Regions from separate parts of the Homo sapiens genome. Here region 2 is linked to region 1. Evidence: fine-mapped expression QTL. A gene starts in region 1. The other region holds a variant in brackets. All regions are shown on one strand. Distances are between the middles of the regions.

Region 1 (4,382 bases):
ACTCTTGGCTTGTCGAAGTGAGAGTACATGCTCATCACCTGTGGAATGTGTTGGGGGAAAACTACCTCCCCCAGCCCCAGGGGATCTGAGGATTCCACTCTGGTGCTGTGGGCGTGTCCCTGGACCTAGAAGCAGCTTGGGTGGGGTGAGCATGGGGGTGGGGCGAGTATGGGGGTGGGAGTTACTTGCTTGCCCAGTGAGTGGAGAGAGGCCATCAGATGGGGTGAGTGATGTTTCTATCTGCCTCTGTCAACCCAGCAAGCCCCTTCCTGGCTGGAAGCTCAAGCCACCCAAACCCTCCAAGACTTGCTGTGAAGGTTCCTCTCCAGATCAGTTTGGGAGCACCATGCTCACAGCTGGGGGTGCAGAAAGAGCCACCTGTGGGCACACACAGCACCAGTCCCCTGCTGGCATGCCCTACCTGCTTCTGCAGCCCATTGCTCAGCACCCCAGGCCTGCTCCAGTCCCTGGGTTTGGGGCACAGGGCCCTGACTCCCCAAAGGGATGCCAGTCATGTGGCTGCCAATTAGGTACCTTGGAGGCTGAGGTGAGCTGGTATTCAGACAAACTCGTGGACAAGAGAGTGGAAGAGTGGCCACAGCTAGCCCAGTCCTGGTTTGTGGGTCAGGGCCAGCCCCTGAAAGTGAGGAGAATCTGCCCCTGGAGGTCAGTAGTAAGGCTGCATGCAGCCCCGATGGAGTGAACGCCTCCAGTAGCACAGAGGTTTCTACGGCAAGAAGTTGCCCCTTGCCAGCCTGTCAGGCCCTGTGCTTGCTACACTGTCTAGCCCCCAGCTCTGGTGGGTGTGAGGGGCTGGCACCAAATATGCCGGTGGCAGCGGTGCCAAAGCCTCCCTCAGACCCTGAGGGCATGGGTCTGGCGGCAGTGGCAGGGGAGAGATCAAGCTCGCAGTCCTGAGGCTGGTGAGTCTGAGCAAAATGATATATTTAACATCAAATATACTCAAGGACTATTAGGATTAAGTATTCAAGATGAAGGGGAAAGTGAAACCCTCTGAGCTGCAGATGAGGCATCTCATTAGAAGCAGCGCTTTTCTGTTTTCTCAAAGCCTGACTTCCCTGCCTAGCAGAGAGGAATATGGCTGCAGCCCGCTGCTCCCCATCCCTGTCAAGCACTGGGGCCTCCCAGGGCTTAAAGGGTAAGACCTAGCCTCCAGGTCTCCTTCAAACCAGATAATCTCCCCCCATCCCCCTGCATTGTCTGGAGTGCCACAGTTTACAAAGCACATTAACATGCATTAGCTCATCTGACCCCCACAGCAACCATAGATACAGGAAGAGTAGGTCTCCCACCTCACAGCCAAGGAAACTGAGGCCCAGATAGAGAAAGAGACTTGCTAAGGTCCACTGTTGGTAATTGGCAGAGATGAGATAGAATCCCAACTGGTGGCCCTTCAGCCCGTTTCTCTTTCCCTGGGTCTAGTCCTCAGAAGTGATTGCCAGGACCAAGCCTCCAACACATCTGTCTGGAGCCCTCCTTGGGCTGAAGAAAAATCATTATTTCTATCCCACCTTGGAACTCTGTACTGTCTAGGCAAAGAAAAAAGACTTGGGATTTAAAAGTAGGTGGCCTTCCGGCCAGGCGCAGCAGCTCACGCCTGTAATCCCATCACTGTGGGAGGCTGAGGTGGGTGGATCACGAGGTCAGGAGTTCGAGACCAGCCTGGCCAATATGGTAAAACCCCGTCTCTACTAAAAAATACAAAAATTAGCTGGGCGTGGTGGTGTGTGCCTGTAATCCCAGCTACTCGGAAGGCTGAGGCAGAAGATTCGCTGGAACCTGGGAGCCGGAGCTTGCAGTGAGCCGAGATCACACCACTGCACTCCAGCCTGGGCAACAGAGCAAGACTCCATCTTAAAAAAGAAAAAACAGAAAGAAAGAAAAAGGAATGAAAAGAAAAAAAGTAGGTGGGTAGGTGGCCTTCCTAGGGTAGGCAGCCAGAACATCAGCCCCAGGATTCTGGGGAGAAGCAGGGTCCAGGAGAAGAGATGGGCACTGTCTCTTTTCCTGCCTTATGAGTTACAGAGCAAGAATCGTCAACTCCATAATAGCAGCAGGAATCTTTGTTTTGTTCAGTGCTGTATCCCTAGTGCCTTAGAACTGTGCTTGGCACATAATACATGCTCAGTAAATATTTGTAGAATGAGAAAAGCTTTCAAGGCCATGCCTGTGCTTGCTTCGAGAGAAGTTGAGATAAGCTCTCCCGCTCCATGGAGTCAGGATGCTTTTGGGGGTGCTGCTGGGGTCAGGAGTAGTGCTGTAAGACTCGGTAGGATCGTTTGTGCCCTGAAGAGGGTTAACTTTGCCAAACAATCCGGGAAGCAACACGAAACCCCGGGCAGAACTGGTAGGAAGGAAAAGGATGTGATCAGAGAAATATTGCTCTGAAGAAGAGACAAAAATCAAGGCTGAGGGTCTGGGAGTGACAGATGGGATGCGTCCTCCAGACAATCATTGAAGACCACGACCCTGGGATCGGAGCAAAGACGCTCACCGAGCTAGGACCTAGAAGCCTCCAGGTGGCGCTGCGGAGCCGGACAGCCGTGCGTCTCCACTCCCCATTAACCCGGGAGGGTGGAGGCCTCAGGAAATGTGTGCATTTATGCAGTAGCAGGAGTGCAAACCTCATACATTGAGGGAGAAAGGCAGCGGGAGACGGCCACGAGATTCCCCCATCTCTTTGAATATAATTTTAGATTGAGATTCAGATTAAATCCGAGGGGAAAACACTTTATGAGGCTGAAAGCTGTGTCGTTGCCAGAGACAGGGTTATGAGCTATCAAATGCAATTACATTAAGACAGATTATACTGGGCAAATTGAGCCATTTAGAAGGTGAGAATCAAAGAAACGGCTCTGATCCTCTTTTCCCCCTTCTCTCTCCCTCTCCCTCTCTCTCTAAATTGCAGTTCGTAGTTCCTTCCAATTCTGAGGCACAAAAGTAGGTGAGACTGCTTTTGTATCTGCGAAGTGCTTCACTCCTGAATGTAATTCTAGCTGAGTGCAATCTAGGTTAAGAGCCGGACAAGCGGGTAATTAGAGCCCGCTAGCTGCCCGAAGACCGGCCGCCCCTCCAAAGCGCGCCCCGAGTCGGCGCCCTTCTCCCGGCCGAGCCTAGCTGCGGCTGGACACGGAGCGCCCGAGATGATGGTGCTGGACAAGGAGGACGGTAGGTGGCGGGCCGGGGTCTCGACGCCCCTCACCCCCTCGCCCCCTGCCGCGGCGCGCAGGCACACACACGCGGGGACACGGGCGCACACCTGCTGGGCTGTGCGGGGATTGCGGGGCGGGCGGCGCGCTGGGGGCCGGGGCTGGGGCGGGGGGAAGTACCGGGGGACAGCCGGGCGGAACTTGCGGGGGGAGGAGGTCGAGCCCCGGGCTGCACGCGCCCGGGGCCGCACGCCCCCCGGGTCCCGGCCGCGAGCCGAGGAGCTGTGCACTGGCCGTGTGCTGCGCCGCGGGGCCGCGCGGAGGCTGGGGCTCCCTTGCGATCTCCGCGCCGCGGAGGTTCGCTCTGAGCATTTCGTGTCTGAGGCTGCTGCTCTCACCGCAGCCATCACCCTCGCGCCAGCCGCCGCGTAACCCGAGAGGCGCTGAGCGCCGAGCAAATCAGCGGCTTCGGGGAGAATCGGGCTCCAGAGCTCGGGGCAAGCGGGAGCGCGGGAGGACGGCGCGAGCGCCAGGGTGCCCGGCAGGCGAGGGGAAGGCGGGTTGGACCCTCCGGGGGACATCTGCATGAGCGTGACTCGGTGAGAAAGAGAGCCGCCTCTTGTGCCGGCCCGCTAGCTCCCTGTCTCTCTGAGCGCGGAGGCGGGAGTTTGGCCCAGAGGAAGAAAGTGTCCCGCCGCCGGCCGGTAGCACTTGTGCGGGAGCGGCCTGCGAGAGTGGCACGGACCTTCCGTGGTCGAGCCTCAGTGCGCCCTAGAAAACTGCAGGGCACGGGAAAGGTCGGAACAGAGGAGCCCATGGCTGCTGGAAGCCACTAGCAGGTGGTCCCATAGACCCCAAAGCCTTACTGGCAGGGAGTGCCCTGCAGTTAAGTGTCCTAGAAGGCTGGGGATCCCAGCCCCCTTGGGGGGAAAGCCAAGTGGGTGCCCTAAGATGAGTCCCCAGGGTAAGGAGAGAGGCAGTACCTTGGCTGTCCCAGGACCTCCTGCCCTGTAGGTGAGGCCTGTGTGTTGGTGTTGCAGGGGCATTTGTATGTGACTGTTGGTGCCCACGCTGCCGCCGGCGTTCTGCCATTGGTGAGGTACCGAAAGGGTAGGTTTGCTTTGAGTCAGCGGGAATCCTCTTAAAGTGACTGTAGTGGCCATCCTCTGCCCTTCCGTTCAGGAGTCTCTGCTGGGCCTGAGCCCTCTGTCC
Region 2 (4,382 bases), 130 kb before region 1:
AGGCTTGGCAGTGGGCTGCAGTGGAAATCAACTCAAGATGTACACGAAGGTTTTTTAGGGGGGCAGATACCTTCAATTTAAGGCTGTGGGCACACTTGCTCATTTTTACTTCAAATTCTTATGTTTAGGCACAGCTATTTATAGGGGAAAACAAGAGGCCAAATATAGTAATGGAGGTGCCAAATAATTATGTGCACTTTGCACTAGAAGACTTTGTTAGAAAATTACTAATAAACTTGCCATACGTATTACAGCAGAAGTGCTTCAGTCATTCACATGTGTTCGTGAGATTTTAGGTTGCTATAGATTGTTTAAGACAGCTTATTTTAAATGTAGAAAAATAGGAGATTTTGTAACTGCTTGCCATTAACTTGCTGCTAAATTCCCAATGTATTGATTAAATCAATAAAAAACAGATGTTACTCAGCACATTAATTTTTATGTTAACAAGAGGTGAATATAATAAGGTCCTCTAAGCCTTTATGCAAATTATAAGTTTGTTCTACTGCTGCAATGGTAGGCACACATCTTTGGGGAAGATCATGAAGCAAGAAACAGGGGACCATACCTCATTTCTCTTAGCTTTATAGACATCTCCTTTCCACCTGGGTAACTAATTTTGCCAGTTGAAGTCAAACTGGTTGAATAGCTACTTTCCTTTGCTTCCAAAGCAAATTCTAAAGAAAGAATTTGCAATTGCTTTTACCTTCATAAAGTCATAACCTAGTTCCATTCCAACCCCCCATGGAACTGTCAGGTCTCCAAAATGGCCCACATCTGGCCAGCTGAGCATATACTAGTTGCATTTAAATCCACTTGGTAACTAAAAATAGTACGTGTGCTTCTTGCAGTTAGTTTAGAAGACACTATTGTGATTCCGAATGAGTCAAAGATAGCACTGGCCTGTGTTGCCCCACGTGGTTCTGCCAGTATTTTCTTAGTACCTTCAGTGTGCTTTCCTTGGGGGAACCTGCTGGCCAAGGCATATCTAGTGGAAATTGTCTGTATTTTATTTTAAACTGTCATTAACATAGCTGCTTCAAGATCTTTCTCCCTTCTTGATGTCTAGTTCCAGTCGTATCATAAGCCCATAAACCATATCCTGAGCTTTAAGCTTTCTCTCAGGGTTTAGTAAGCCAGTCTTTAAAGGGCGTGTTCTGTTCACCTGATGAGAACTCTGGCTTCATTAGCTAAGTGGAGCCTTCCCTTCCCTAGTAGTCTCAAAGGCAGATGTGTGCACTGCAGTTCCGTCACCTCCGGCGGGGAGAAGCAGGGACCTAGTGCACGGTGGCTGCTTGTCTCCTTGCAGAAAAGCCTAACCAAGATGGTGGCTTTGATTCTGCCTATTCCCTGGGCTTGAAAATGAAATATTCTGTATATTAAAAATACTCTTACTTTCACAGTGATATTCTTTTGGGATTAGAAGATCCTATTGTTAGATAGAGTACTATCCACACTTCTCTTGGCCCTAAAAATTAGCGATTCTGCTCAGTAAGCTTGAGCAAAGGTCCAGAACTAACCACTAACTAAAAGATGAAGTCATTTTATAACACGTTAGTGTGTCTTCACCTATTCCCACCTCACACCAGGCAAGGCCAGCCACCCTGCCTGTCATATGATGCATTCTATTAACGCCCCTCCATCGAGGTGTTCATTTGATTTGTAGGAGTCATTTTAATAGAAATTTAGCTCACTCTTTCTAGAGAGAATTTCCACATCATTTTTGTGTTACTTAGTGGTATTTTTGTTACTTCGTTGTGTAGAACACACTTGGACCAGGCCATGTCTGAGCTTTGTTTCCAACAGATGTGCCTCTTTAAGGTCTGGGGATATATGGCCTTCCTTCCTCCATTTGCTTTCACAGCTGTGAAAAAAGGGCGCTCTTCCATTTCAGATTGACTTTCAATGACTGATAGGCCAACTCGAAGGCACCAATAACAAACACTGTGACACCTCCTGTGCTCCATAGCATGGGGAGCTGGGTTTTGCTGTGATCCAGCGGGACATAGTCTGTCTAGGACAGCACAGCGCAGGTGTTATTTTCAAGGAATTCAAGTAGCGATCCGCATTCCAACTTGAGTGACAGATAAGGCAGGCAAAATATGATAAAAAGAGAGGAATGCAGGCAAGCTGGGGACAAATTCATTTGAGGAGAATAGAGGATGATATCAGAGAAGGCCTTACATCAGAGAAGGAAGGAAAATGGGGATATGTGGAGCAAAATGAAAATAAATTATAATTAATAAAGAAGACAGGATGACAACACATGGTTCTGCCAAAGCCGGAAGCCGGAGCGAGAGGAGGGAAGCA[C/G]TGCTCATAGAATATTTGGTTGTTCCAGGCCAGTCTGAGGTAAAGTTAGCCCCCTCCCAGGGCCCGTACACAGGCAAACCTAGAAAAAGGCACAGGATGAGGAAACGAAGACCCAGGGAAATGGAAGCTGAGATTTTAAGAGTCAGCCACAAAGTTGTCCTTTCATTTTGAGTAGGAATGTTGTGTGGTGCTGCGGGGGTTGGGTGGGGGCCAGCCAAAAAAAATCAAAACATCTTGTGCTTATCACTGAAATGCTTTGTTTAAATAATTCTATTTGACTCCAAAATGTAAGTTCCAGGTTAGACAGATCAAAAGCAACCAGTCTTGAAAATGAAGCTTTTTAAATTCCAGCCGCGCTGTTGGAACAGAGAATAAAGGCTTTGTTTAAACATGCATTCCCAGCAGCAAGCAGAGCTTTGAAATTGGCCAGGGAAGTTGCGTCCTATAATGGCTGTGCTTGGCTAGAGACCAAGGAGCTGTGGCCTCTGGGAAATGACCCTGGGCTGGATATTTTCTATCTGCCCCTCCAGAACCACTCTGCCTGCTCTGCCGTCTCTGCCCAGAGAGGCTGATCTTCAGGTACTGCATTAACACACTCCCTGGGCTTCTGGATTCATTGGCATTCTGTCAATGAAGGCACCAAGGGGAGATGAGAGAAGGGGAGAGCCAGGTCCAGACGCTGACTCCCGAGTGCCTCCCTGCTCTGGGCCAGGCTGCTGGGCATTTGCTGCCTTCTTTGGTGGGCGTGGCTCCTGCCAGGCAGCCCTCTTACAGCTGTGTCCCCTGCCCTTGCAGGCCAAGACCAGCCTGTTGCCCTGGCTACTATGTCTTCCTTTGTGGGTTTTCCCAAACCCTCTCAGTGCCTTTATGAACAGTCTCTGTTAAATCCTCAGCTTCCGCATTTAAGTTTACCACCTGTCTTTGGCTGCAACTCAAGTGGTGGAGACCCTTTCCTTATCAGTGCTGCATTGTTCCTGACCCAAGGTAGTTTTGTCTCTGGCTGCCAGTCTCCTACCAAAGTACAGTAAAGGGCAAAAAAGATAAACGAGCTCTTCCTGACACAAAGAGATTCACCTGGGTGGTCACTAAGGGTTGGGGAGGGGCTGGTGGGGAGATGTTCCTGAGGTTGGGACCCAGGTAGGGCAGGATACCTGGAGCGTTGCCCGATACCGAACCTGAAATCTGAAATTGTCTGGGCTCAAGGTTTGGGAGCCTAAAGAATGCAACACTTCACTGTGACAGCCAACAGAACCTGGGAGGAGGCCACCCTACACTGGCTGCTTGCTGCCAATGAGAGACCAGGGAAGGGGCTTCCAGGGGACCCCGTGGAGCCCAGGAAGCACAGGAGACCTGAAGACAAGACGTCTCCTGGGCTTCGTGTTCGCTTCATCTCTACAAGCACTGAAATCACTTTACAAAAGCATTTTAAGGTAAAAGTTTTTACTATTCAAAGGTCTCACATCGTTCAGTTGTACTCTTCAGGATCCTGCATTTTTCTGAGTGAGCTGGCTGAGAACCGATTTTGATTTCTGTTCAGTACATTGTTATCACTTAATTCTCATTGGTGAGCCAATTTTCTTTGCCTTTGTTCTTCAAAGCGAGGCCGCATCTGCGGCTGTCTTGCATTTCTTGTGGCTGCCTTCTTCAGTCCCTGCTATAATCAGCTCAACTCTGTGCTTGCTGGGTCAGTTCTCCATATTTCCCTGAATAATCTGGGTCAGCCCTCAGAGGAGTGGTGGGGGTTCCCACCACTGCCCCATTGGGAAGATTAATAGGACTTTTGCAGTGTCACCATGGCACTCTCAGGACCTCCCCTTCCCTGTTGCCCAGTGCCATCCCAGGTACCTTAGCCAGATCCTGGACCTCCTCCTCCAAACATGCATCAGGTCCTGTCCTGGCCCAGAGAATGGGACTAGAGACGCCGTGCAGACCCTGTCTCCGTCCAGGCTTCTGCTGGTTCCTCTCCGAACTAGATCCTGTGGCATCTTCACACCATAACCAGGGCATTGATACAGGGGCCATAGAAGTCTCCCTGCCCTTTGGGGACCAAAACCTCCCTGTAGGCAAAATCC

Direction of the effects. Positions count from the first base shown, and alleles are read on the strand shown. Sizes are in standard deviations (SD) of each study's normalised expression.
In carriers of allele G in region 2, the expression in cerebral cortex of the gene that starts at base 2,649 in region 1 tends to be higher than with C alone (moderate effect, 0.67 SD a copy in GTEx).

What was found. PIP is the estimated chance that this variant, and not a neighbour inherited with it, causes the effect.
Region 2: its variant is the best candidate, but not a certain one, in a credible set for the expression of LMO1 in cerebral cortex (GTEx, PIP 0.74).

The regions. Positions count from the first base shown.
Region 1 is chr11:8,262,145-8,266,526 of GRCh38, reverse strand. LMO1 (LIM domain only 1) reads left to right here and starts at 2,649. Exons shown (of 4, transcript NM_002315.3): 1 at 2,649-3,189. The coding sequence starts at 3,165. RefSeq lists a silencer at 3,438-3,527 and an enhancer at 4,224-4,382.
Region 2 is chr11:8,387,917-8,392,298 of GRCh38, reverse strand. It overlaps STK33 (serine/threonine kinase 33), which reads left to right. Exons shown (of 16, transcript NM_001352389.2): 16 at 1-429. Among named protein-coding and RNA genes, the nearest start is that of LMO1, 130 kb to the right of the region's middle. The variant C/G (reference allele first, on the strand shown) is at 2,311.